Homo sapiens: one gene and its partners. The protein of the gene in region 2 purifies or fractionates together with the protein of the main gene of each other region. This does not show direct contact. Each region holds a gene or a part of one and is shown on either strand. Other genes may lie near its edges.

Region 1 (7,251 bases), on a different chromosome or scaffold from region 2:
ATGTACTGGACACATCTACATGAGCTAGAGTTGTCTTGTGATACTCTGAACGAAGGAGCAGTATACATTAATCTAGGCTATGTAGCTGTTTACCTTTCTACAAATTCCCATCCAGGTCAGACACATTGTGCTCTTTGTTTTTTTCTTTTTTTAAAGAACACTCACTGAGTCATCTCTGGGAAAACCTTAAAGCGAATTAGTGGCCAGAACCACATTCTCTACCATCCTCTGGGTTGCCTTCCTGATTGAGGTTATATGAACAAACTGTAGAACATAATCTCTTCTGCTTGGGCTTAGGACATCAGCGAGGACACCAATAAGCCTTCAGGCCAGGGAGGGCCTCAAGGCCTTGAATTGTGGAGAGGGCAGGCCAGCATTGCCTTTGCACCTGTTTTGATAAAGAATTCCTGTCCTCTTTGTGCTGAGTTGTTTAGTCAAAGTGAAGAGAGGATGCAGAACTTGGTGGTGTGATTGGAAGGATGAGCTCTGTAGGGGATTCTAGAAGATGTAGCAATCCTTCTTTCCTGCCCTCACCCCCAGTACTTCATCCATTTTTGAAGTGATCTTGCATTTTACTTCAGGAGAGCTGGTGATGATAAGTGTTCTTCAAGACATGGTGACTTATTAATGCTAGGAGAGAGATGATAGGAAGCTGTATTCTAGAAATGGGGCTTAATTTATAAGATGGAGTTCTTCTTAACTACAAATAGGATTATGCAATTTATAAATTTAATTTAGCAAGTGAAAAGGAGTGACCAAAGAACATCAGGAAAACTACTGGTTATTTAAGACTTTGCGCCTTGTGAACCTAAATTACCTACTTTTCCATGTGCTACTGGAAGGAAGGGGTTTACTCTATTTGAAAGAAGAGGAGAGGGGAAAAATATGTTATTAAGTATATCTGGTGATAACTTTGTAGGCTTGTAGATCTTCATACTGTGTTTTTAATTCTACAACCTTAGTTTTTTCATTTAGTAGTTCCCAGGGGTGTTAACGGGTGATGCTCTGGAGGAGTGCGGACTTGCTCGAGAACCTTCCAAGTTCAAAGCAAGAGAAACTGGGGAATTTTGCCGATGACCTTTGAGGATTGCATTATTTGTTTTCCTGTCAGAGGCTGTCACTAACAGCTGATTCTCCTACTAAAGAAGAAGTAACAGAAAACAACACAGGAGCCTGCTTCGTTGGTAGGAGGTGCTCAAAGGACAGAGCTAAAATCTTTAGTTGGATATTAAGGAGAAGTATATTTCAAATTCAGTGTAAAGGGAGTCTTTACAATAGCCAAGCCTGGCAAAAATGGGAAGGCTATTTTGTGAGGCAGAGGTTTTTTTGTCATTAGAGATATTTAAAGAAAGGTTGGAATGGCCTTTTTTGGGGGTAATATTCTAGGGCAGGGATTAGCAAACTTTTTCTCTTAAGGATCACATAGTAAAATAGTTTAGGCATCTGTCACAACTACTCAACTCTACTGTTGTATTGCAAAGGTAACCAAAGACAATAAGTAAACAAATGAGCATGACTATTAAGTTAGTCTGCTCTGGCTGCCCTAAGAAAATACCATAGGCAGAGTGGCTTAAATAACAGAAGTTTATTTCTCGTAGTTCTGGCAGCTGGGAAGTCCGAGATAAAGGTGTTGGCCCATTTGGTTTCCAGTGAGGGCTCGTTTCCTGGCTTGCAGACAGATGCCTTCTTGCTATGTCCTCACATAGTAGAGAGAGAGACGGATATCTGTTTCTTCCTCTTCTTATAAGGCTGCAATCCTAACAGATTACTGCCCCACCCTTATTACTTCATAAAAAGCTGGAGGTTAGGGCTTCAACATAAGAATTTTAGGGGAAGAGTCCACCATTTAGTCCATAACATCTGTGTTCCAATAAAAGTTTATTTATAAAAACAAGAGGTGGGCTAGATTTGTCCCAAAGACCATAGTTTGACAACCTATTGAATAGAGGAAATTAAACACTGGTGAGCGAGCAGACTAGGTGATCTACCAGCTGATAGATTCAAAACCTGGAGGCTATCGGTAAGTAACCTGCAAAATTAACTGGATCAGAACAAACCTAACTCAGAGCTCATCGACTAGTATTTCTCAGAATAAATCACTTAATAAACAAAAATAGTTCTTAAGTCCAGGATTAATTTTACTTCAATGTGCATCAAATCTATGCTTTTGGCTGATGGGAGATGCGAATGATAAACTGTGCTGGGGTCATCTTTAGAACAGGCCTGGTGTGCTCCTACAGTTGTAAACAGTGCCGGTTATAACGTCTTTTGTCATTGATCAGCATAGAAACCTAGCTTTTTTTTTTTTCTTTTGCAGCAAAGCCATGATTATTAATCTCTTCTTTATTTGTAGGAGAAAGGTCTCTAAGATACTTCTCAGCTAGTAGCCTTCCCCCTCCCCTTCCTTTGGAGAAAAATAGAAGCCACTAAATAGGAACTCCCTCCATACTTTGCCACGAATCATAGAAACTTAAATGCCTCTGCACAGTCACTGCTCTTCTCCTTTCTTTCTGTGGCAGCAAAGAATGAGAACTTTTTTTGCTGACTCTAACCCCCTGTACCTCCAAGCTTTTTTGAGATCTCATGACCAGTTTCTTCTGCGTAACTTTAAAAAACGGTCTGTTTTTCCACCCAGCTCTTGTCCCAAGTCTGTCCCAGTGCTCTATCTTGTTTAAAAATAAAAACTAAACACAAAACCAAACCCGGAGACATTATACAAACAATATAAATTTGACAGGAAATGGAGGACAGAGTCATACTGCGCGTATATAAAACTCTACTTCAAAACCTCTTCGAAACATTCTGACAACCCCAAACTCTGCACCCAAAGTTCATCCCTCATCTTTCTTCTTTCCCTATAATTCTCCTCTTCGGTCTTGTTTTCTCTTCTTTCTGATCAACACTCTTCTTTGCCTCCTCTCTGTTCCTGGCTTTTCCAAGTGGCATTTTCTGGGGCTTTTTGTACACAGAGAGATTTTATATCTTTCTGCTTCTTTCATATTCATCCTTGTATATCACTGTGCTGGGACCTTTAGCAATTCTTATAAAATGCAGATCTGGTCATGCTCTTTGATGAAAAATCTTCAATGACTCCGCATTGATCTGGGGTGAAATTGCCAGACTCCTTACCTGTTCGAAAAGACCCAGTGTCATTTGGACCGTGCTCAACTTTTCAATTATGCTGACCCCCTCATCAATTTTGTTATTGCCCAAGTTCCTTGTTTTCCTTGTTATGGCATTGCTGTCTCACTCATGGGCCTTCACATGCTTCTCTGTGCCCAGAATCCTTATCATCTTCCTCTGTACTTAGCTGAGGCATCCTTCTGGTCTCAGCTAGATACCACTTTCTAATGAAAGCATTCCTTGGCCAGGCATGGTGGCTCATGCCTATAATCCCAGTGCTTTGGGAGGTAGAGGCTGGAGGATTGCTTGAGGCCAGGAGTTCAAGACTAACCTGGACAACAAAGTGAGACCTCATCTTTACAAAAAGTAAAAAGAAAATTAGCTAGGTGAGTGGCACATGCCTATAGTGCCAGCTGCTCAGAAGGCTGAGGCAGGAGGATTGCTTGAGCCCAGGAGTTCAAAGCTACAGTGAGCTATGATTGTGTGACTCCCGGGGCAACAGAGTGAGAACCTGTGTCAAAAAAAAAAAAAAAAAGGAAAAAGAAAAGAGAGAAAGCCTTCCTTCACCCTCTCTGTATTAGCTGTGCTTTCTGATGTCCTGTTTTTATTTCTCAGGACAACCTTTTATTTCTCCTGTCCTGATATTATTATGCTTTTGAATTTGTCTATAGACTTTTAGTTCATGAGAGTAGGGGCCATGTTTATCCTGGTCACCATTTAATTCCCATCACTTAGCAGAGTATATGGCACATAGAAAGTCCTCAGGAAATATTTATTGGATAAATTATCTACATTTAAAGTATAACTTTATTTTTTCACATTTGATTAATTTTAATACATATAAATTTATACCTTATTACATAACTTTAAAACCCATTTACATTATAAAGTAAAATACTATTACTTTTTACTTTATAAAGTATTTTTACTTAATTAAAAAGGAACAAATGTGTATTATTCTTGGAAAATTTATTTTATCTTTCCATTTGTCATTTTCTGTTTATGCTCCATAAAGTTTTTATGACTTACAATCATAACATTTTTAGAGTGGAAGTCTATGTAAAATATACCATTTTTGTTATTCTTCTTCAGAATGAAGGATTAAACTGAAGATTAAAAGAAAATTTCCACGAAGTTTTGATTATGACAGCATTGTGGAGCACATACTGGGTTTGAAGCTGCTTTAGTCTTACCTTCAATGAATCCTGAGAAATGCAGTGATAATGCTTAGCATATTATATATATATATATATATTTCTTTTTCTTTTTATATTTTAGATAAGAGTGCCCAGGAGTGGAATCTGGAAATAGAGTCTACATTTGATGTTGTCAGCTCAAAGCCAGTTGGTGGTCAAGTGATCGTAGCCATCCCTAAGTTGCAAACACAACAGACATACAGCATTGAACTTCAACCTGGGAAAAGGATTGTTGAGCTATTTGTGAACATTAGCAAGGTAAATGATGGTACTTCCTGAGAAGCACTGGATGAAAAGCAATACCTGTGCTAAAGAAATGATTAGAAAGGAGGGACTAAGTATGAAAGAAAATTCTACTTTCTCTGCTTATATTTGTCATTTTCTTCTCTATTTTAGTCTCTCATATATTTTCTGTGAGTATGAGCTAAAGAATGATTTTCCCAAACTTTAAGATTAAGAAAATAGAGAATATATTATTAATTTGGCAATTCTTTCTCTCATTTTATTTTTATCATTGTATTTTAATTTTCTGTAGTATTTGTAGTATCCTAAAGCCAAAATACATTCTATGGATTATATTTAAATAGCAGTGGTTATTTTTGATACTTGTCAATTATTTTGATTATTGATACTTATTCTACATGCACAATTTTAATTCTAAACTCATGATCTTTCATATATCAAGGTAGAACGGATTATTTTTATCTTTTCTTTTTCTTTTTTCTATTCCTCTAATTGATAATTGTGTACTGAAAAAGGTGGAGCAAAATAACATTCAGTAGCTGTTGAGATAAAGTAAGAACTCAAAATGATTTTTAGTTTTTGGCTTGAAAGAAGAGTCAACTTCAGAGTCCCATTTTAAGTGTTAAGAATGTGGAATAAATGTAAGCTCGGTGTTAGGGATAGGGAGAGTTGTTTTTCTGAACACTCATGTTATTCTGTTCTTTCCTTTTGCTTTTGATGTATTGATCCATGCTAGATTCCCAGCATGCTGATTTTTAAATATTATCAATGAATTGGTCTGATTGGGCATAATATAGGTGGGGAGACTTACATTGTTTTAGAACCTAGAGTTTTGTACTTGACTATTTGAGAAATTGATGTAATGCTTTGAGCCTTTTTTGCTGAAAATATGACATATTAGAGTGACTTTTAAATTTTCTTAAAAGAATATTACTGTAGAAACTTGGTGGCCTCATGGACATGGAAACCAGACTGGGTACAACATGACTGTTCTTTTTGAACTGGATGGAGGCTTAAATATTGAAAAATCAGCTAAGGTAAGTAAGTAATTTAAAATATTTTGTGAAATAATTTTATTTCTTTTAAAAATAGTAATACAGATCTTCATGGGAAAAGAAGAAACCGTCAAAACTCTTGTGTCCCCACCCATCAGAGATCATCTTTAGTAACAGCATTCAAAAGCTTCTCTCTCTGTGTGTGTATATATACATACATATATATACACACACACATATATATATATATATATATTTTTTTTTTTTGAGACAGAGTCTTGCTCTGTCACTCAGGCTGGAGTGCAATGGTGCAATCTTGGCTCACTGCAACCTCCACCTCCTGGGTTCAAGCAATTCTCCTGCCTCAGCCTCCCAAGTAGATGGGATTACAGGCACCCGCCACCACGCCCAGCTAACTTTTGTATTTTTAGTAGAGATGGGGTTTCACCATGTTGACCAGGCAGGTCTTGAATTCCTGATATCAAGTGATCTACTGCCTTGGCCTCCCAGAGTGCTGGGATTACGGGCGTGAGCCACTGCGCCCGGCCTTATATTTTTAAATGGATCATACTTTAGATATTATTTTGTCAATAAGTAGTCTCCTGCTATGATTTAAAATTGTACCTTATATCAAAATAATACATGTGTAATTTTAAAACTCAAATATTACTAGTAAGTTTATATGAAAAATAAGACCTCTTGCCCATCACTTCCTATTCTTACTTCCTACTCCCCAGAACCAACCATTTTTAACTTTTATTTATTTCCTCTGACATTCTTCTTCATTTTTCTGAATAAGGTGCTTCTACTGGTGTTTTCTGATTTTTCAGTTTTACCCATTTTAGGATATAGCACTAGGAATTGGAAAGAACTGCACTTTGTTATTTATTAGCTATAGGCTACTTACTTAATCTCAAAATATGTAAAATAGGGACAATAAGAACGAGATGGCTTGGATCTGGCTTATAAGAGTCATGGCATATAGTTAGTAGAAATGGTATTAACCCTCTTCAAAGATCTCCTCCTCTCCCAGACACCAGCTTCGGTGTTTACAGTTGGCTGGTGTCACCTCTTACATTTGGTATTTCCTCTCCTGTGGGCCAGACAACATGCTAAGGATGGAGATATGTCCTTCAGGAGTGCATTTTCTGTTTTTCTTTTGTTCAATCATGCTGTGTATTTTCTGAGACACTGTGAATGTGTGTGTGTGTGTGTGTGTGTGTGTGTGTAAGGGGGGAGGGGAGAGAGAGAAAGAGTGTGTATGTGTGTGTGAGAGGGGAAGAGAGTGTATGTGTGTTTGTGTGTGTGTGTGTGTGTGTGCGCGCGCACGCACACATGCACAGAGTTATGTACAGGGAGAACATCCTGGACCCGTCTTAAGGGCCAAAGCATTCACTCTTGTCGTACCCCTCTTGGCTGAGAGGATGTGTGCTGTCTCACACAGTGAGTTTGTTGTGTGTTGTTTTCATGAAAATGTAAAAAATAATGAGTCATTCCAACTTACTACAGAGAAAGAAGAGGAACTTCTGTCTTTTTCTAAGGGAAATAATTCTTTTACATTCAGGCTAATATGACTGTATTATTGTTCATTACACATAAAGATGCCAGCCTTTGAATCGAGCAGCAACAGGAGTTTGCTTTAAGGAGGATGTTTAACTGCCCCACACCTTGAGTTAATGCATGTGTGTGAAATG
Region 2 (7,751 bases):
GACTTGGGGCTGTGTGCATCTACCTGATACACCATCAGATGCACATCGTTCTCTTGTAACCTGAGGTGAACATCCTGCCACATGGACATTCCCCAAATGGGCCTGCCCAAAACCTGTTGATTTTCTGCAGTCCATTGATTGATCCACATGGTAAGGCCTCTGTATGTAGCCTAACTCTGTCCAAGTGACTAGTGACCAGGGCTTGTGGGTGATGAGTATCCAAACTGCCCATAGCTTGACCCACTGAATGTTTTGTCCTAATCCCTATTCTATCCATAAGGTATCAAGGTTCATTTGCGCTACAACTGTTGACCATTGGTGCTGGCTGCCTTTGTTAAACCCACCAGTGTAGCAGGTCCTAGCAGTTACGGGCAGGGTCCCCTTATATACAGTGATTGGCGTAGTAGGTGGCCCCACTGTCATGTCAAACCCCTCCAGTTGTTCAAAGTGGATGGGTCTGAGCACCTCCTGTAGTGCTTGACTTAAAAGACTAGTGGATGAGACACCCCTCTGTTGCAGATAGGTGTGCCATTTTTGTAGGGTGTGTGACTGTGCTACCCCAGAGATGGTGTTGGCTACAAGGCCTTCCATTCATCCTTTTATGGTGTAGGCAGTTTTTAGTGTGATAGTCTGCTTCCTGGTGATGGCCTCCACTTCATGCAATGCCCTATACATGGCCAACAGCTGTTGCTCGAGGACTATACAGTAGGTCCTGCACTCTTTCATAATTGAGACCAAAATCCTACAGGTACCATTCACATTGGTTGCTTTTATCACAAACCCCAAATCATCCCCATGGCATCTTTAGTGAATTCTAACACAAAAGGGTGCTGTGGCAGTGGGGACCCTATTGCTTGCACTTGTTTCACCAATATTTTTGTCTTGTCAGATGCCTCTTGCTCCATGTATGTCCAGTCCCATTGTTTATTTTTCTTTATGAGGGTGTATAATGGGCAGAGGGTTTGTGCCAGATGAGGAATCAATATTCTCCAGTAGCCCAGTAAACCTAAGAACACCTGGTGTTAGTTTACCATCTAGGGAACAGGCTGCTGTGCTAGCTTATGTTTCACGTCTTACCCTACCAGGTAACTCTCAGGAACTTGACAGTTATGCCAGGCTCCTTTATCTTTTGGGGGCTGACTTCTCATCACCTGTCTTTTAGGGTATCCAAGACAGTTTGTAGAGCAGTCTCCAGATCTGTAAGAGACTCTGAGGTTAGCATGATATCATTAATATAGTGAAACAGGGAGATTGAGGCAGGCAAACAGGGCCTAGACAGGTTCCATGCAACCATGCTGTGACAGATGGTGGAGCTGTGCAGGTACCCTTGTGTTAGCACCTGGAAAGTCCATTGTTGGCCCTCCTAAGTGAAGACAAACTGACCTTGTGAATCTTCTGCTAAAGGGATACTGGAAAAGCCATTAGACAAGTCAGTCACAGGATGGACATTTCCCAGCTTGAGGACCACTTGTTCTAGTAGTTCAGCAGCTGCATATACAGGGAGCAACACTTTGTTTAGCTCATGGTAGCCTGCCAACATTTTGCAGGTGCCATCTGGTGTCTTCACAGGCTACCCAGGGCTGTTACAGGGGCTCTGGGCCAGCCTATTTGTACCTTATGGAATGCCTAAATTGTTCTGATGATTTCAGAGTGTGCCCCTGGCAGGCAGTATTGTTTTACATTCACTGCCTGCCTGTGCTGGGACAAGTGATTACTTTCTGAATTTAGTCCTTGCTCTTATCCAGCCCACTGAGATCCACCAATGCTTCCCCCATATCATAGATTCCATTTTCCACTAAATGGCAAAAGAACTGCAACCAATGTCTCATATCATAACCCTTTCTAAACTGGAAATGACCCAGACATTCAATGAGTAGCTAAAATAATTTTAAGATTTTAAACTACACAAAAAGTTTTACCTATGTTTATCTCATTTACATTTACTGAATTTATTCATTTTTAGTGGTTTATCTGGATTACTCATGAGAACGAAAGCTCATTAGACTTATTAGACAAAGCTAATAATCATTACGAGTTATTTCCCTGTTAACCATTTTAATGGCTTATAAATATCAGATGTTCGTCTAATCAAGAAACTTAAAGACATAAGCATTTTTACCAATAACTCAGAAAATTCAGCTGTTTTAATTAAACTGACAATATCAAATTAATCTTGCTTATCAAAAAAATCACACAAAGATCATTCTGTTTTGGGTGGATTTATAGTCTTAGAACCTTCATGTCAGAAACCTGACACCTTAAACTATCTAGGAGGGGCAAATATACAACTTATCTAATCAAGAAACTCAGACAAAAATGTATGCTGACACTTTTGAAGACATTTCTACTTTTATTTTATCAAAAATTTTGAAGCCAGCTTATTCACCAAAGATTATTGAATTCACGTGAACCTGAAGAGCATCTGGACTTATTTAATTTATGAGTACGTATTTACTTATAAGCTATTCGGTACCATGCTAGATATAACACATAGCATAATACATGCACATACACATAACACATTTAAACATGTTTATACATATACATGCAAGATCCGATAGCTTTTACCAATAGCTTTTGGAATTCTAGCTTCACAAACTCATTACTATATAAAAGACAGCTGGATCCAGATTATTTTTGATAAAATTGGGACCTGTTCACATGGCTAAACTTTATTTGCCCCAATAGGTAACCCAAGGAAAGCAGTGGATCAATAATTTGGGTAAAGCAGTTTCTATGGCAGTTTGATTTTTAAAAACCTCCTTTATCCATTTTTTTTCAGTTCCAAATGAGTTTAATTCTTTACATTTTAGCTAGAACTGGCTGAACCATATGAGGAAAAAAAAAATCTCAAATTGACCTTGAATTAGTGAGTTTTATCTCAATACCAGTAACTTATTAACAGTAGATTCAAAGCAGGCAGAAAAGGAAAGAGAAATAGAGAGCTTTAGAAGACTCTACTTAACTCTATAGTTGTAGATTAAACATTTGAGCTCTGAATTTTTCTTGTTGTAATTTGCCCGTCAGTTTTAAAATGTACACAAGAAAGGGCCATAATATGTAACCAGCTGGAGGATTAGAAAACCATGCCTTTTAGCTTCTGCTGGAGTTTCTACCCTTTCTCCCTTTCCTGCTCTAATGATTTGTGATTAGCCAGCCTTATTGCAATAACACCACATTTACTATCATTATCATACTTTAATATCTTGGCTTCTTGGCAATAGGTATTCAGTCCTTGCCCATGTTTTCCAAGCATCCCTGTACTCATGCAGTGGCCCACAAAAGTTGTGCAGTTGGGCAACTCCACTCCACATGGACATTGCCGACTGCCCAGGGATTCCCCACCATAGACACTCATTCCTGGCTCGAAGTTTGGTCTCTCTGACCCCATTTGTGATGCCAATTGTAACAAGAAAAATCCAGAATCATATTTTTAAAAAAACCTTTCCCCCAAACTAGGAGGGAGCCAAGAGACCAAAGAATGACTCAGACAAGTCCAGCTTGGCCAGTGGATAAGTTTATTAGGACTTACATATGAGACACTCCTAGATAGCAGAGGACACCTTTAGAGACCTGCCCTGCTTTCCATCTCTAAGCTGCTTTTAAGCTAATTTTCTGGCTCTTTGCCTACTGTGTGTGCATGATGGGACTGTTTTCCTTGATAGGTTCTCAGGTATTCTCTGGGATGTTTGGGTACTCAAGGACACCTGCTCCTCAGCTGGACACCATGGCGTTGACTCACCACTTGGCCATCAAGGATACCTGCTTCTTGGCTGGGCACCGTGTCCTTGACTCACTACTTAGCCATTAAGGTTCAAGCAGTGGTCATACACCCTTAAGTATCCTGGTGGGGGACCTGCAACCCTACACCAGTGACAAGGCCTATTTCTCATTGTCCACGACATGTGACTTTGGGAAAACTACTTAGATTCTCTCTGCTTCAGTTCTGCCACCCACAGACCAGAAATAGATACCAGACCCAGCCCTATCTCTTCTTTCTAGGGTTGTTGTGACATTTGGAAAGAGATTATGGGTTTAAGAAACTTTAAAGGGTTAGAGTGATACAAAGTGTAGTGAATTTTACATCTCAGACTAACCTGATATAAAATCTCTACTGACAAGTCCGTAAAGATCTTAGCTCAGTGCCTAGGATTCAGTAAATGCTTAGAGGATATCAGCTATTAGTGTTACCGCTCATTTTCTTGTTAGACTATGCTCCCAATTATCCAAGGATGACTTTGGTAGTCTAATATTGGTCTAAGTCTTTAAGTATTAGAGGTACTGCCTTCTGAATTGTCACCAGGCCTAATGTCATCTAGACTGTAAACAATTCCCCAACTATCAAGATAACTGTTCTATGAATGCTTTTCATTTCCATATTTTCTTGGCTCAATGCTGTTGCTCAGGACAAAAAACACCAAGTTGGTGATGATGACTGAGTGATGAAACAGTGATCAGAGGGACATATGAAGCTAGTGTAACAAAGATGGGAGGGGCTGGGGAAAGTATAAGTAACTATTAGGAGGTTCAGAGCAAACCTCAGGACACTTACTCCCTGAGCTAAGGTAAAGAATATTGTCCCTCATAGCCCTGGTCTCAGAAACTCTGTGGGGAAGATAAGTCCTGAGCCTAGAGCTGCCATTTCCACAGACAACTGAACTACCTTCAAACAGATGTGTTTTTAGGGGCAGCAGATAGAAGGAGCTGAATCCAGGAGTTTCCTTCCCTGAAATGCCCCAACAGAGGCACAGTCCTCCACCTTCCCTGGAACAGAGGGCTTTCATCTGTCTCTCTGAAGCCATCTCCCTCCCCTGTTTATGCCCAGAGCTGCTTTCCAATCCCATGGAGTGCCTCCGTATCTAACCATAGCCACTGAGTCTACCAGGTGTTCCTGAGAAGACAACTAAGCCAACCGCTCCACACTCTGCTGATTTTCTTCTACATCTCACAGGGGGAAGAGCTGGATCACCATGAAATATGTCTTCTATTTGGGTGTCCTCGCTGGTATGTACTCAAGACCTTGTACTCTGTCCTGTAAGGCACAGTTTAATGGATGGGGTGAGACAGAGGCAGGATTGCGAAGGGTGCAGAAAAAGAGTCAAAAATAGTGTCATCAGCAGAATTAGGAGTCCTGCCTCTCAGACTCCATCCAAAGGCTCTCCGGATAGGCTGAGCCCACTTTTCTAGTGTTAAGCTATAGGGTGGGTTAAGGCACACATGTGCCTTGGAGAAGGCTTAACAGTGAGTGTCCTCCCACCGACACTAATGCAGAAAACAGAGAAGTAGAAACAAAAGATCAAGTACTAGGACCCTACCTTCTGTAGTCCTTGCCCCACATGGGGTTCTTCTGACAGCAGAATTTGCAGATGAGGCATTTCCCACCATTCTCTGACTGCCTAGGTTGTATCACACATTAGCTGTGTGAGATTAGCCAAGTTAATTAACTCTTCTGTGCTTCAATTTCTTCAAAATGGGGGTATGACTACCCATATTATAGAGCTATTGTGAAGATTAAATAAATCTATGTAAAGCACTTAGAACAATGCCTGCTATAGAGAGCTCAATGTCTCTTGCCCTTGTTTACAGTCTACCCTTTTCTCTTTGGGGTTTCTAACTGTGTGATCACACAGAAGGGTGTGGTGAGGTACAGACCCAGTCTTGGGGAAGGTTAACAGGAGTAGCAAGAGAAGCCAAGACAAGAAGAGGGCTTTATTTCTGATACTAGAATCAGCCTTCCTCCCCTTTATTCTCTAGGGTATGTTTTAAATAATTCATTTATAAAAACAATATATGTTCATATTACAAAATTTAGACATTTTTAAAGTAGAAAAATAAGCATCATTCATAATCCCACCTCTTAGTCAACACATGCTAACACTTTGAGTTTACTCTCAGAATCTATATATTTTTTGCATTTAAATGTTTTTATTTATTTGTTTTTAGACAAATAGATTATATCCACAATTTTCTTGTTCTTTTTAACTTAAATAAGCATTAATATTCTTTTGCTGTTTAATATTCTAATTAGTTTAATTTTTATTATATATGATGTTCCACTTTTTGATGTGCTTCAATGTCCAACATTACTATGTCAGATATTTATGTTTCCAGTGTTCAGCTGTTATAGCTAACATGAGCATACTTGTTTGTAATCCTTGTCTATATCTGATTTTTTTCTTTAGAATGGATTCTTGGGGTTGGAATGATTAGGTCACAGGTTATAAACAATTTATGATTCTTGATGCCTGTTTCTAAATTGCTTTTCAAGAAGATGGAATCAATTTACTAGCAGTGATGAGTGTCTCTCATTATACTCTCTTAGATTGAATATTATCAATATTAAACAAAATTATTATAAATATAAGATAAAATGGCATATCGTTTTAATTTACATTTTTATTAGAAAAACATGTCAAATACGTTAACACTTCTTGGCCAACTGATAACTGTTTAAGAATCATCCAGATTCCTTTTCAAGTAAGAGACTGTTACCTTATTTTTATAATATTTATGTATTAAGAATGTTCATTATTTTCTCAGGGACATTTTTCTTTGCTGACTCATCTGTTCAGAAAGAAGACCCTGCTCCCTATTTGGTGTACCTCAAGTCTCACTTCAACCCCTGTGTGGGCGTCCTCATCAAACCCAGCTGGGTGCTGGCCCCAGCTCACTGCTATTTACCGTTGAGTATTTGGGCATCCCCATCCCCAAAACAGCTACTGTTCATTCTAGATCAGTGGTTCTCATATAAGGGTAACTTCTCTACAGGGTACACTTGGCAATGTCTGAAGATATTTTTGGTTGTCACAACCAGGGGGCAGTGCTATTGGCATCTAATGGGGAGAGGCTAGAGCAAAGATGCTGTTTAACATCCTACAATTCACAGCACAGTCCCCACAATAAAGATTTGTCCAGCCCAGAACAGCAATAGTGCCACTGTTGAGGAACCCTGTGTTACATGTTATGCCTCCTCAGACTCTCATAAGTTTTTTTCTTTTTTTTTTTTTACTGGCAGTATGAATGCATTTTATCACTTAAAGATCTAGCAGGTAACTGATGATGCACTCAAATTGGGTCAATTGAGGTGAGTTTTAAGAAGGAACCAATTGCAAAGGTATGGAGACATTAAAGGGACAATATTAAGAATAGTTCCATACCACCAGGGTTTGTATTAAGAAAATGCAGTTACCACCTCTAGGCCTAAAAAGGCAAGAGGAGAAGATAATTTCAAAGGAGGCAAGGAGAGATAGAGAAAAAGCGAGACCTGTGTGAGGAGACAGCCTGATAAGGATTGTAACCCCTAGTCAAGGAGCACAGCCACTCTGTGACAAAACTGCAGGGAGGGACCTGGGAGGATAAGTACTCCAATCTCACTCTTCTTCCTCCAGTTACTTTCTGGTGCTTCCTATTGGCCAATAGAAGGAAGCCAGAGGACAAGAGAGCCCACTGATTAAATCCATATATGTCCCCTTCCAAAGGTGCAGAGCAGAATGGAATAGGACTGTTAGTGCATCAGCTAGGGAACCAAACAGGAGACACCCAGAACTAGGTTATTTATTCTCTGGTCTCCACCAAAATGGACATTGTTCAGTTAGATAGGCGAGAAAATTACATTTCCTTGACATGCATCCTCTTCCTCTCCACTACATTAAAGAACACAACATTAAAATGTAGTGAAGGGCTCCACTACTTACTATATCACCCTGAGTGAATTACTCCTATGTGCCCCCATTAATTCATGTGCTAAATGG
Region 3 (7,251 bases), on a different chromosome or scaffold from region 2:
TGTGTGTTTGAGGGTTTAGCCTGGCCAACCCAGCCATGAGGTCGGACCTGACCCGGGGGTGAGTCCTGAGCTCGGCACCCCTGAGCTGTGTGGCTCACGGCAGCATTCATTGTGTGGCTTGGCCGCACCCCTTTCCCTGCTGGGCTGTTGATGTTTAGACTGGAGCCTCTGTGTTCGCTTCCAGGAACCAACCCGTGTGCGGACAGGAACGGGGGGTGCAGCCACCTGTGCTTCTTCACACCCCACGCAACCCGGTGTGGCTGCCCCATCGGCCTGGAGCTGCTGAGTGACATGAAGACCTGCATCGTGCCTGAGGCCTTCTTGGTCTTCACCAGCAGAGCCGCCATCCACAGGATCTCCCTCGAGACCAATAACAACGACGTGGCCATCCCGCTCACGGGCGTCAAGGAGGCCTCAGCCCTGGACTTTGATGTGTCCAACAACCACATCTACTGGACAGACGTCAGCCTGAAGGTAGCGTGGGCCAGAACGTGCACACAGGCAGCCTTTATGGGAAAACCTTGCCTCTGTTCCTGCCTCAAAGGCTTCAGACACTTTTCTTAAAGCACTATCGTATTTATTGTAACGCAGTTCAAGCTAATCAAATATGAGCAAGCCTATTTAAAAAAAAAAAGATGATTATAATGAGCAAGTCCGGTAGACACACATAAGGGCTTTTGTGAAATGCTTGTGTGAATGTGAAATATTTGTTGTCCGTTGAGCTTGACTTCAGACACCCCACCCACTCCCTTGTCGGTGCCCGTTTGCTCAGCAGACTCTTTCTTCATTTATAGTGCAAATGTAAACATCCAGGACAAATACAGGAAGACTTTTTTTTTTTTTTTTTGAGACAGAGTCTTACTCTGTTGCCCAGGCTGGAGTACCGTAGCGTGAGCTCAGCTCACTGCAACCTCCGCCTCCCAGGTTCAAGCGATTCTTCTGCCTCAGCCTCCTGAGTAGCTGGGACTACAGACATGCACCACCACACCCAGCTAATTTTTTTTATATTTTTAGTAGAGACAGGGTTTCATCATGTTGGCCAGGCTGGTCTTGAACTCCTGACCTCAGGTGATCTGCCCGCCTCGGCCTCCCAAAGTGCTGAGATAACAGGTGTGAGCCACCGTTCCCGGCCTAGGAAAACTTTTTGCCTTCTAAAGAAGAGTTTAGCAAACTAGTCTGTGGGCTGGCCTTCTGATTCTGTAAAGAAAGTTTGATTGGTGGCTGGGTGCGGTGGCTCACACCTGTAATCCCAGCACTTTGGGAGGCCGAGGTGGGCAGATCACCTGAGGTCGGGAGTTCGAGACCAGCCTCACCCACGTGGAGAAACCCCGTCTCTACTAAAAATACAAAAAAAAAAATTAACCGGGCATGGCGGCGCCTGCCTGTAATCGCAGCTACTCAGGAGGCTGAAGCAGGAGAATTGCTTGAACCTGGGAGGCGGAGGTTGTGGTGAGCTGAGATGGCACCATTGCACTCCAGCCTGGGCAACCAAAGTGAAACTCCGTCTCAGAAAAAAAAAAGTTTGATTGGTGTAACCAAAGCGCATCTGTTTATGGATTGTCTGTGGCAGCTTTTGTTCTGCCGAGATGAGTTGTGACAGATCTGTATGGGCTCTAAAGCCTAAAACATGTGCCATCCGCCCCTTTACAGAAAAAGTGTGCTGACCTCTGTTCTAAAGTATTGGACAACTACAATGTTTGCTCATTTATTATTCTATGATTTGTTTTCTGCTTTTTGTTGTTGTTGTTGTTGTTGAGATAGGGTTTCCCTCTGTCACTCAGGCTGGAGTGCAGTGGTGTAATCTCAGCTCACTGCAGCCTCGACCTCCTGGGCTCTAGTGATCCTCTCATCTCAGCCTCCCTAGTAGCTGGGACTACAGGCACACACCACCACTCCTGGCTGATTTTTTTTTTTTTTTTTTTTTTTTTGGGGAGACAGGGTTTCCGCATGTTGCCCAGGCTGGTTTCAAACTCCTAGGCTCAAACACCCACCTCAGCCTCCCAAAGTGCTGGGATTACAGGCGTGAGCCACCATGCCCAGCCTATTCTACTGTTTGTATTACATAGCTTTAAAAGATTTTTTATGACTTTAAGTCACAAGGGTTCTTTGTAGAAAAAAAAATATATATAGGAAAGTATAAAAAGAAAGTAAAAATTGTCCATAACCTCTCCAGCCAGAGACGACCGTTGCTGACACCTCAGCATATTGCCTTTAAGTCTTTTTTCTCTAAGATAGCATTTCTCTTCATCACAGTCATATGCTACGCAGAATTCTGTATCCTGATTTTTTCACTTGACATTACAACAGGTATTTGATGGCGCTGTGACAAACTCTTTGGCACAATCTTTTAAATGTATGAAATACTCCACTGCACAGATGTTTGCTTTTAGGCTTAACTGTTCTTTTATTTTGCGTGTGCTGGTTACAGCCGGGCACAGTGGCTCATGCCTGTAATCACAACACTTTGAGAGGGTGAGGCAGGAGGATCACTTGAGCCCAGAAGTTTGAGACCGGCCTGGGCAACATAGTGAGACCCCATCTCTACAAAAAACTTTTTTAATAAGTCGGGCGTAGTGGTGCATAGCTGTAGTCCCAGCCACCAAGGAGGCTGAGTTGGGAGGATTGCTTGAGCCCCAGGAGGTTGATGCTGCAGTGACCTGAGATTACTCCACTGTACTCCAACCTGAGCGACAGAGCAAGACTTATCTGGGGAAAAAAAAAAAAAAAAAAAAAAATATATATATATATATATATATACACACACATACACGCACACACACATAATATAAAAATATATATTTATAAATATATAATATATAATATAAAAATATATATTTATAAATAAAATTTATAAATTATATTTATAAGTAAATATATAATATATAATATAAAATATATATTATATAATATATAATAAAATATATAATATAAAAATATATATTTATAAATAATATATAATACATACTTATAAGTATATATTTAAAATATATGTAATGTATATTTTTTAATGTATGATATATAATATACATTTATAAATACACATTTATATTATTTTATATAAAATATATATAAAATCTCCAAGTTGCTTTTTCCAAAAAGGTGTCTTGCTGCATTTCAAACATTCATTTAAAAACTTGAATGCTGGTGATCTGGTCCAGAATGTGTTCAGTAGCTGCTGCCAGTGGCCAAGCATCTCGGGAGATGTCTACAAAACACGCTGGTTCTGGCCTGGCGTGGTGGCTCACGCCTGTAATCTCAGCACTTTGGGAGGCTGAGGCAGGTGGATCAACTGAGGTCTGGATTTCGAGACCAGCCTTGCCAGCTTGGTGAAACCCCATCTCTACTAAGAATACAAAAAAATTAGCCAGGCGTGGTGGCATGTGCCTGTAATCCCCACCTACTTGGGAGGCTAAGGCTGGAGAATCGCTTGAACCCAGGGGGCAGAGGTTGCAGTGAGCCGAGATCGCACCATTGCACTCCAGGCTGGGCAAGAAGAGCGAAACTCCGTCTCAAAAAAAAAAAAAAAGATGCTGGTTCCTAAAATGTGGCCCTTTTCCTCCTCACCTGCTGCCAGACCATCAGCCGCGCCTTCATGAACGGGAGCTCGGTGGAGCACGTGGTGGAGTTTGGCCTTGACTACCCCGAGGGCATGGCCGTTGACTGGATGGGCAAGAACCTCTACTGGGCCGACACTGGGACCAACAGAATCGAAGTGGCGCGGCTGGACGGGCAGTTCCGGCAAGTCCTCGTGTGGAGGGACTTGGACAACCCGAGGTCGCTGGCCCTGGATCCCACCAAGGGGTAAGTGTTTGCCTGTCCCGTGCGTCCTTGTGTTCACCTCGTATGAGACAGTGCGGGGGTGCCAACTGGGCAAGGTGGCAGGCTGTCCGTGTGGCCCTCGGTGATTAGAGCTGTACTGACGTCATTAGCCTTGATGGTGGCCAGGACTGGTAGGGCCCTCAGAGGTCATGGAGTTCCTTCGTGGAGCGGGTGCTGAGGCTGTATCAGGCACAGTGCTGGCTGCTTTCACCTGGGCCGTCTCACCGAAGTGTCCATGGAGCCTGCGTAGGGTGGGTATCTGTGTCGATTTTACAGATGCAGAAACAGGCTCAGAGAAACCGAGTGACTTCCCTAAGGTCACATACCCAGTTAGAGCAGAGCTGGGCCAGGAAGTGCTGTCTCAGGCTCCTGACCAGGTCTCCTTGCTTTGCACTCTTGCCAAAACCATGATCCAGAACTGACTTTGAGGTCCCCGGACCTCAGGCTCCTCCGAAATGGCCTCTTGGAGGCTGCTGAGCCACAGCTTAGGACCCACCTCGAGAGGCAAATGTGCTTTGAGCTGCCAGGCGTCCTGGGGGCCCTGCCTTGGGCACGGGGTTCAGACAGGCCCCAGATGTGTGGGGCGTCTTTCTGGACTTGAGTTTTCTTTTCTGTGTGGTGGACACAGTGCTCACCCCTTAAAGCACCTGTGATGTGTGCAGCAGCCCAATCCCTGCCTGTCGCCTGTTCTGCTAGGGAAGGAAGGAAGACTTCAGGATGGCAGGACAACAGAAAGAGGTCCAGGTTTTAGAGCAAGGGCAGGTCAAACTTAGAAAATTCTGGAATGAGGATGTGCATTTCCTCTTCTGGATCTGCTAAAAGAAGAGGGAAGGAGGGGCTGCTGGGGGAGGAGCCCAGAGCCGAGTTTACATCCGGATCCCGCAAGGCCTCCCCTGCCCTGAGGTCTTGTTTTGTGATGTGCTTGTGTCCATCCTGGTTTCTGCCGTGTCCCCAACATCCGGCCAAGCTTAGGTGGATGTTCCAGCACACACTCACCCTGTCTGTGCATCTGTTTTTGTGTCCGTAAGTGGGTATTTACTCGCCTTACGAGTGAGCCACTGTGGGAATTCAGGGAGGTGGCGCAGTGACCACCCCTGGAGGGATATGTGTGTGGCAGGGGTCGAGGGTCTCGCCCTTCCCTGCTTCCTGCGCGTGGCTTTCTCCAGGACGGGGAGGGCTGAGCTGAAGAGGTGGGGACAGTTGCGTCCCCCCGCCACCCACTGTCCTGCGGTGAGAGCAGACTCACTGAGCCTGCCCTTCTCCCTTGTGCCTTCCAGCTACATCTACTGGACCGAGTGGGGCGGCAAGCCGAGGATCGTGCGGGCCTTCATGGACGGGACCAACTGCATGACGCTGGTGGACAAGGTGGGCCGGGCCAACGACCTCACCATTGACTACGCTGACCAGCGCCTCTACTGGACCGACCTGGACACCAACATGATCGAGTCGTCCAACATGCTGGGTGAGGGCCGGGCTGGGGCCTTCTGGTCATGGAGGGCGGGGCAGCCGGGCGTTGGCCACCTCCCAGCCTCGCCGCACATACCCTGTGGCCTGCAAGTTCCCCAACCTGGCAGGAGCTGTGGCCACACCCACGACTGCCCAGCAGCCTCACCCTCTGCTGTGGGAGTTGTCCCCGTCCACCCCTGGGTGCCTTTGCTGCAGTTATGTCGGGAGAGGCTCTGGTGACAGCTGTTTCCTGTGCACCTGCTGGGCACTAGGTCCCAGCTAATCCCTGTGCCAGGACTCTAATTTCACCCTAACACACATGGTGGTTTTCATTGCTGGGGAAGCTGAGGCCTGAGCACATGACTTGCCTTAGGTCACATAGCTGGTGAGTTCAGGATCCCCCAGAGATACCAGGGCCAGCACTCGATCCCCACCCAGCCCTGAACCCCACCATGTGCTGGGATTGTGCTGGGAGTGTCCACACGCCCGGGACCCCAGGGCTGGTGCTCTCATCTCCTTTTTCCAGATCATGAGAATGAGGCTCAGGGAAGTTTGAAAAAAACCTATCCCAAGTCACACAGCAACAGGAGCAGGATTTGAACCCAGAAAAGGGGACCGCACACTCTGTTCTGCTAGAGTAGTTAGCTGTCCTGGGTGATATGGCAGGTGACAGGGGCAACTGTGCTTAACAAAGGAACCCCCATCCCCCCTGCCAAGTTGGGAGACTAGAAGGTCAGGGGCAGAAGCTCTGAAGGGCCAGGTGCAGTGGCTGACACCTCTAATCCCAGCACTTTGTGAGGCCAAGGCGGGCAGATGATTTGAGCCCAGGAGTTCAAGATCAGCCTGGGTAATGTAGTGAGACGCCATCTCTACAAAAAAATTTTTTAAAAATTAGCTGGGCATGGTGGTTCATGCCTGTAGTCCAAGCTACTTGGGAGGCTCAGGTGGGAGGATTGCTTGAGCCCAGGAGGTTGAGGTTGTGGTGAGCTGTGATCATGCCACTGCACTCCAGCCTGGGCAATAGAGTGAGACCGTCTCCAAAAAAAAAAAAAGAAGAAGAAAAAGAAGCTCTGAGGCTCCAAGTCCCCAGGCACCCCTTGGCTTGAGGGCAGACAAGGGAGGAGAGGGTCACCTGGGCAGCCCTGACTTTTGTCCCCTGGCAAAGGGACCTTCAGTGACCTTGGCCCTAGGAGAGCCTCTGAGCACGTCAGCCATGTCGAACCGCTCAGGAAGGGCAGCAAGAATTTGGCTTCTGACCTCTGCCTCTCCTACTCGCCATCTGCACTGGGTGTGGTTGTGCCCATTTTACAGATGAGGAGGCTGGGGCATCGACCAGCTGAATGCCTTGTCCCAGGTACTGCGTAGGCAGAGCTGGCAGTTGAACCCCGTGTCCTGGTTGTCGCTGGGGGTGGGCTGCACCCTGACTTGTGAGGCCAGTAGCAAGGTTTGCACGTGACTTCGTGACCGTCACCCAGCTCTGCAGCACATCCCGTGACCCAGCTCATCCAGGCCGCATGCAAACCTGTTGCCAGGCGAGAAACCAGTCACCGCACAGCTGTGGTTGCCTGAAATGATTAAGCTCATTAATCACCCCGGAGTGAGGACAGACTCAGATGAAAACCAGCAAAAGCCCTGGAAACTCATGTGACCCTGCCAATGAGGGCGGCCATGTGCATTGCAGCCTGGCCGTCACTCCTCGGTACGTGTTTTGGACTTAAACGCTCCGGATGTTTACTGAGTGCTTGATTAATAACATGGAAGGCCTGGTCTCATTGCTGTGGGAGTGAAGGATGCACAGCCAGGCCTGACATGATGAGAACAAGAACCTGGAGTCTCGCTGCCTGGGTGGTAATCCTGGCCCTGCCACTTAGCAACTGTGTGACTGTAGCCAGGTCACTTAATTTTGCTAGATCCTGCCTGCGCTTCAGTGGATCTTGCTGGTTTTCCAAGGTGGCCAAACACTTTAAGGCATTCATGTGGTCGCTA
Region 4 (7,246 bases), on a different chromosome or scaffold from region 2:
CCTTCACCATCCAGGTAGCAGTTAACCTTGTATTTACCTTCTGGATCTCTTATGGTGAAAAACGCAATGGGAGTGTTAACGGGTTCCAGTTCTTTCAGATAAACCACACCATCTATCTCGTTTGCTATGTAACGAGGGACAATTTCAGGGGGTCTGAAAATAACTTTAATAATGGACACAAGAGCAGTGATTACAGCAGGGATGCAGCCTGGTCCATTAGCAAGGATGGTGAGCTTGTGGGACTCCAGAACACTTCCTCCAATCTTACTGAAAAGTTTAATGACTCCAGTGTTTTCATCCAGGTGAAATAAATCCTTAGATGCTTGTGGAACTTTCTGACTGTAAGAATAAGTAATTTGAGCATTGGTCCCCAAGTCTTTATCCACAGCCTGGACAGCTGCAATTGGGGTGCCCACTGTAGCATTCCCATACACAGTGACATTGATTTGTGAGTCTGTGAAGAGAGGGCAATTGTCATTAATGTCACTGATGCCAATGGTGAGAGTGGCACTGCCCAAAAGTGGTGGAGACCCACCATCCTCAGCTATGATGATGCTCACATACTGGTCCTGGGTTTCCCTGTCCAAAGCACCCATGACAATTAGGTAGGGGGTGCGCTCCCCATTCTCATTCTCCTCCACGTCCAGGGTGAACATACCATGGTAGTCCAGTAAGCGATAGGTCTGTACCCCATTAATGCCTACATCTGGGTCCACAGCAGGATGCTCTATGGCCAGTCGGGTGTTTACAGGTGCATTTTCCGGGACCCACACCGAGATCTGGGAAACAGGGAACTGCGGGGCGTTGTCATTGATGTCTCTGATGGCGATCTTCACCTTCACAAACCTGAAGTATTCCTGAGGCAGGACAAGCACATCCAGCAGCAAAAGACAAGAGTCAGAAGGAGAGGAGGAGATGGAAACGCTGCCGCTCCACGCAGTCCCTCCACCCCCTTCAACACACAGGGCCTCCCTGTCGATCTCCTGAGCTGAAGTGTGCAGCTCCCCAGAGCGGTTGTCTAGGGTCACGTACTGGCCACTCAGTCCCCGGGAGGCCAGGCTGAAGGAGAGAGGGGGGTTCCACTCAGCACCGGTGCGCTCTGGCAGCTGCGACTGCGGGTCCGGCCTCCCTGCAGACCTGGGCAGCAGCCGCAGGTCCTCGGCCAGGCTGCCGATGAGCACCCCCGCGGGTAGTCCCTCGTTTAGGCTGTACAGAAGCTCGGTGGCCCGGCTGTAACTCCCGAGGCAGCTGAAGGGTCCCACGAAGAGGAAAAACAGAAACAGATGCTGGAGTTGGGGGAGGGAAGAAAGCTCATTACACACACGGGGAAATAGGGGTCCGAGAGAGAAACTAGCGCCCCTGTGATCCTTGCTGTCCCCATCCCCGTTCCCAGAAGCAAAACCTCTAATTAGAACGGGGGCGGAGAAGAACCCTGCTGCGAAGGAGAGATCTGTGGGGCAATATCGTCTCCAAAACTTAATTTTGCTGTTCACTTTCTATCCCCTCCGCCCCCGCCTTCCCCCCTCGTTTCCCCATCACCACCCTCATCCAGCTAACATTCAGAATCCCAAACCGTAAAACATCCCTGGAAACACACACCGGAGTGGAGAGGATTCCGACTCAGAGACTGCGCAAAGCGACACGGAAACCCAGGGTAGGTGATGGGGAGGGAGGGGGCTGGTAGTAGAGAGCACTGAAAGGTGGGCAATTTATTTCTCCTTGAAGTGATTCTGCCATTAGAGTGCTGGAACACGCAGTGTGTTACATCCCTTACTAAGAGAACCATAAAAACAACCACAATCGCAATAATAATAATAATATAGAAAAAATACCAACACTTCCTCCTCCACCTCCAACACTTTAGGTCTTAGGTCGGAAAGAGTGATTTTTATTTTAGCACACATCTGAAATCAAACCGAAAGGATCTGGATTTCCACCCCTTACCAAGCAGTCACTAATCCCCCTCCCTTAGGGGGAAGCAAAGTAAACGCGGAAAATGGCTATGCAAAAACAATTTGTCAATTGCAGTAGGCATTCATAGCCAGACGCCAGCAGCAGGAAACGATCCCGAACCCCTGTAGCTAAAGCGGATTGAGCGCACCCCCGATGCCCTCGACCTTATCTGGATACATTTCTTGCTTCAGAAACTTCCTCTCATGACCCACGGACTTCCCTATTCCTTGTTAAAAGGAAGACACATTATCCCAAACTCCCTTTCCCTCCCGGCGCCATCCTTCCCGTGAAGTTTAGATAAAGGTAGAAGGTTTGAAAAACCATCCGAGTGGGAATTGCTTCACAATACTGCAACTTGTCGGGGTCGCGGGGTTCCTTGACCCTAACCCTTACCGGCAGGTTCCTGTAGCTGGTGCTGCTCCTGGGACGATGTAGACGCCCCATATCCAGGCGCGGGTGCCAGGTCGCCGGGCACCAGCTCACTCCCAGGGCCTGTGAGCTGCGCGCATTCCCTCGGCCGCGCATTCCCTGGGAGGCTGCAGTCAGAGCGCTCTTGAAGGGAGGGCGGCAGAAGACACTCCCTCTCGGTTCATGCAAATCGCTGGGGGAACTTCAGCCAATAGTCACTGGCTCTTCAATTAAGGACGGGAACTCAAAGAGTGGCAGAAAGGCAAGAGGGCAGAAGGGCACATTCATGGTTTCCTGCCCCGGACGCAGGTAACTCCATACTCTGCCAGAGGAGCTGGAATGGGGGACTTGCTCCTGAAGACTGCGAAGAGGCAGCTCGGGGTTGGGCACAGTAGCGCTTACCTACCAGCCTCCTTCCTTGCCGCACCAGTCAGATGCCAAGTCCACAGGTTGCTAGCAAGAGAGGGAGAATTAAAATAAATAAATAAGCTTGCATTTGTATATGGATGTAACAGAGAGAGGAAGTCGGCGCCACAGAGCAATCACAGGCGCGGTCCCAAAACGCCTGCTTTGCCAACAGTTCCTCCTGGAGCCTCGGATCCAGCAGTGTTGGCACAGAGAAAGAAAATGCACTTTTCTCAGCGGAGGGAAGGAATCTCAACTTCTGTGTAACGTAGGGTGAACCGGAAAAGTAAATATATGAATTCAGTGAAGGTTTCGACATACCCCAATTTTGAATCTTTGCTGTGGGCAGTGGTAGAGCTTCTGCTAGTTTCCTAGTTGGAGGCTCAAATGTCTCTGGGTGTTTGCCTTGTGGTCTTATTTTAGAGGCAGTAGTGGCTTCTGGATGCGGGGAAGAGCCAAGGGGAAAGTAGAAACAATTGTGCTGTAACACAAGTAGTTCTGCCTGCAAGTAATCTTAAACATATTTATCTAAGCGGTAAATTGGTGTGGGGAGGGGGAGGTATTCACTGAAGCCTAGGTAAAACATTGGTTATTTTTCAAATTAGTCCTTCCTTCCTTGTTTCCTTCCTTCCTTCTCTCCCCCCCTCCCCTCTTTCCCCTTCCCCCTTCCCTTCTTTCCTCTTCCCTGCTTCCTTCTTTCCTTCCCCCTTCTTTCCCTCCCCCTTTCCTCCTTCCTTCCTTTCCTTCCTTCCCCTTCCCCTCTTCCCCTTCCCCCCTTCCTTTCTTCCTTCCTTCCTCCCTCCCTCCCTTACTCCCTAGCTCCCTCGCTCCCTCACTCTCTCCCTCTTTCCCTGCCTCTCTCCCTTTCTCTCTCTCTTTCTTTCTCCTGGATTGCCTACTGGAAAACTGGTCCTTCATAAAGGAATTGTGGAAGAGTGTGGTGCCAAATGATTGCCTATCTTCTATGGCTTTGACACTGAATAGCTATGTAACCTGGAGTCACCTAACTCCTGGCCTTCTGTTTCCTCATTTATAAAATCAAGGCTAGTGGGATACTCCAGTGCATTAAGCCTCTGAAACACTTTTTGATCTGCAGGTTGCCATGTAAGTAATGGAAAAGCCCATGATTCGGCCTTTCCTTGAGAAGACATTTCTCTTCATCGCTAGGCTTCCAGATATCCTCTGCAGGGTCCTGAACATAAAACCTCACATGCTGAATGACCAGTGACTGAGCCTAGAGTGAAAAAAGGTCTTTGATACCTGATTTCCATATGCTTTCTGTAGGAACTACTTCAATTTTCCCCTTCCACCAAATGCTAACTAGAATATAAATTGCTTGGCTGAGCTAACTGTTTTGCTTCCTATCCTTCCTATTTTCTCCTCATTTCTAATAATCCTAAACACAGAGTCCTAAATATGGACAACACACTACATCAAAACACCTGGAGGGTAACAGCTTGTTATTGTGCAAATGGGGCTGTACATGGAGTTCACAAGTCTCTCTATAATACAAATTTGGCATACAATTTGAACCTGGCTGGTAAAATCAGTTCCTTCAAACCCTTTACAGTGAAAATGGAGCACTGATGAAGTGGTAAACCTCAGCCCCCAATCACCATCACCCCACCCCTCACCCCCCTACCCCTCTCCCACTCCACCTCCTCCCCACCCCACACACACACTCAAAGGAACATGCACATCTGAGTTGAAGGTTGGTAAACAAGCTGCAGCCAGGGAAGCATGATCTCCCTCCTTGTGCTTTTTAGCTGCTGGTTCTGCCCTACAGCTGAACTTTTGCCATATTAGTAAATATTTACTTTGAGGTCTGTAGTTGAAACATACTTGACTCCCCAAATCAGTACCAAGCTGCTTCTGAAACGTGTTTAACTTACATCTTTATACAATACCCACAGCTTCCCGAAGTTGGAGGCCCACGGCCAGAGTTAGGCAATCTGTCAGCAGTCAGAGAACCTGCAGTCTGCAACAATTCTCCCCCAGAGACAGAGCAGCAGAGTGGGCTGTTTATCCGCTCACAGCTCATGCCCTCTGCAACAAGTTAAGATCATCCACCTTTTTGGTGGAAACGTAGGGAGCTATTTTCTTCATTTTTCCTTTGTTATAAGGACATTGTACAGGAGCTGTTGTTTATGATGATAGTCCAGGTGAAGTGACATTTTCTCTTTGTAATTATATCTCAAGTTTTTACTTTTCCCTGGCCCCTTACTCTCCCTTTCCCTACTTTGCAGTGGTTGCTTGTAGTACAGATGCACTTCCTTTTTAAAGTGTTTCCCCCAGCCTACACCAGCAGAATCTTCGTCTTCTGACCCTATCACCCAGCTGGTCTCTGTGGAAAGGGTTATTACCACACCTCCCTTTATTAAGTTGAAAAGAAATTAAATATACCCATTTGGCCATAATTATTCTCTAGAGTGTTTCTAAAAACCATAAACATGAATTATAGCAAAAGTTCTTCATGTAAGTTGAAACACTAGTATTGAACACATCTTGAAAATAATGTTTGGAACGACACTAACAACCACATTTGCTTTAAGTGACTACGGTGATTGCAAAGTCCCTGCATGGAAGTTTGTCATCAAGATTGGGAGATCTTGGCATAATATTGAACAATACCTTCCACGTCGCATTTCAAACCATTCACTGAACTACTTGTTATTATCTTTCCTCTCTGAAAATCCAAAGGTTTTACACAATGTTTATACCCTAATTGGGCTTAAATAAAATAAAAAGGACTAAATAGACATCTTTCTTCCCATGTATCCCTTCTCTGGGCCTTGTGAAAGCATTCCCAAACTCTTATTCCTTATGATGCCAGCCTGCGACCTACCTTCTGGTGTCACATATTTCTAACGATGACTCAGAAAGCTTCTATGCTATTAGTCCCTTGAAAATAATACTTATGAACTTCTTAGACGTCTCAATTGCTCTGGGCCTGCTTCCCACATGTTTTGTAAAAATCGATCTAGAAGAATAGTTAGATTATATGCCTCCCAAGCCTATTTTTCCTATAGACAAGGAAAACAGCAGGATACAATAGACGGTGCACTGAGCTGAGCCAGAGGAGTGGATTACATTCTCTGGGTTGTTGCTAAGTTCTGTGTGACTTTAGACAAGTCATCAAACTTCTCTGTTTCAATTTCATAAAAAAAGACCCCTACACACTTCATGCACGTATATGCATGAAATTGCTTACCTCATATCTGGCATTAACAGACACTGCATGCTGATACACGGGTTAACTTGATTATTACTTATTGCATTCTATCACTAAAACATACTATTTTTCATTTACTGCAAGCCTTCTTTTTGTAATTTTATTATCTCCACTACAAAGATGTGAGCAAGATTATAAGTATATATCAAGATACCATCTTTGCCTGGGCGCGGTGGCTCACGCCTGAAATCCTAGCACTTTGGGAGGCTGAGGTGGGCGGATGGTCTGAGCTCAGGAGTTCAAGACCAGCCTGGGCAACATGGTGAAACCCCATCTCTACTAAAAATACAAAAAACAAACAAACAAACTAGCCGGGGCGTGGCAGCGTGCGCCTGTAGTCCCAGCTACTCTGGAGGCTGAGGCACGAGAATGGTGTGAACCCGGGAGGCAGAGCTTGCAGTGAGCCGAGATCGCACCACTGCACTCCAGCCTGGGCTACTGAGCGAGCGAGACTCCATCTCAAAAAAAAAAAAGATGAGGAAAAAAGATACCATCTGTAAACTTTTTACGTTTTAAATCTTTAAAAAAAATTTTTGAAGCACTATGCTTTACAGGTAGTTTTATTTGTATTTCTCAATTAAATCTATTTCCACTATTTAGATTAGTTTAATAATATTGTGGTATACACAAAGTTTCATGTAATCACTATATACACAGATATTTAAAACTATCTTGAACCATAACCGTGTACATGTTCTGGTTAATTCATAATTGCAAATAAATATAAGTTTAGAATATTACCTTATTTTAAGGCCATTTCTCTTTGTCTTAATAGAATTTTTAAAATTAGAAGTCCCTTTTGATGAATTAAAATATATGTACATGTGTACACAAAATATATTATTAATATATAGGTACATATGTAAAAGTGTAAAATATACCACATATAAATATAACATATAATAAATATATATACAATGAAATATTATATCTGTATTCTTTTTTGATTCAATCATCAAGGTTAAAAGGATGATTACATTTGAAAAACCAATAAAATACCTGAGAAATGATAGATTGGTTACCTAGTGTCAATTATGTTTCAAACATGCTACTAGGTGGTTGACATATGTAATTTAGTTAATCCTCACAGCAGTTTTATAATATAGTTATTATTATACCAGCTTTATAGCCATACATAACATGCTAGTCCAGAGCCTGATCTGTGACCTTCAAAATATGTGATCTTTCTACTCTGGTATGCCTTTCTCATCAGAATGGGAAAATAAAGGGCCCACACACATTTAAATG

What was found.
Region 1: the proteins of PRSS37 (region 2) and MANBA purify together in Homo sapiens (affinity purification with mass spectrometry; 2 studies listed by BioGRID and IntAct, with this or other methods). This does not show direct contact.
Region 3: the proteins of PRSS37 (region 2) and LRP5 purify together in Homo sapiens (affinity purification with mass spectrometry; 2 studies listed by BioGRID and IntAct, with this or other methods). This does not show direct contact.
Region 4: the proteins of PRSS37 (region 2) and PCDH20 purify together in Homo sapiens (affinity purification with mass spectrometry; 2 studies listed by BioGRID and IntAct, with this or other methods). This does not show direct contact.

What each region holds. Positions count from the first base shown.
Region 1 is NC_000004.12:102,687,922-102,695,172, reverse strand, and holds part of MANBA (beta-mannosidase precursor), read left to right. Parts: intron 1-4,401; coding exon 4,402-4,577; intron 4,578-5,488; coding exon 5,489-5,599; intron 5,600-7,251.
Region 2 is NC_000007.14:141,838,269-141,846,019, reverse strand, and holds the start of PRSS37 (probable inactive serine protease 37 isoform 1 precursor), read left to right. Parts: upstream 1-4,534; 5' UTR 4,535-4,970; coding exon 4,971-5,004; intron 5,005-5,670; exon of another isoform or gene 5,671-5,755; intron 5,756-6,540; coding exon 6,541-6,682; intron 6,683-7,015; exon of another isoform or gene 7,016-7,084; intron 7,085-7,751. UniProt on the Homo sapiens protein: Plays a role in male fertility. May have a role in sperm migration or binding to zona-intact eggs. Involved in the activation of the proacrosin/acrosin system.
Region 3 is NC_000011.10:68,406,340-68,413,590, forward strand, and holds part of LRP5 (low-density lipoprotein receptor-related protein 5 isoform 1 precursor), read left to right. Parts: intron 1-184; coding exon 185-474; intron 475-3,574; coding exon 3,575-3,801; intron 3,802-5,096; coding exon 5,097-5,281; intron 5,282-6,740; exon of another isoform or gene 6,741-6,921; coding exon of another isoform or gene 6,922-6,964; intron 6,965-7,251. UniProt on the Homo sapiens protein: Acts as a coreceptor with members of the frizzled family of seven-transmembrane spanning receptors to transduce signal by Wnt proteins.
Region 4 is NC_000013.11:61,412,681-61,419,926, forward strand, and holds the start of PCDH20 (protocadherin-20 precursor), read right to left. Parts: upstream 3,170-7,246; 5' UTR 2,479-3,169; coding exon 2,347-2,478; intron 1,287-2,346; coding exon 1-1,286. UniProt on the Homo sapiens protein: Potential calcium-dependent cell-adhesion protein.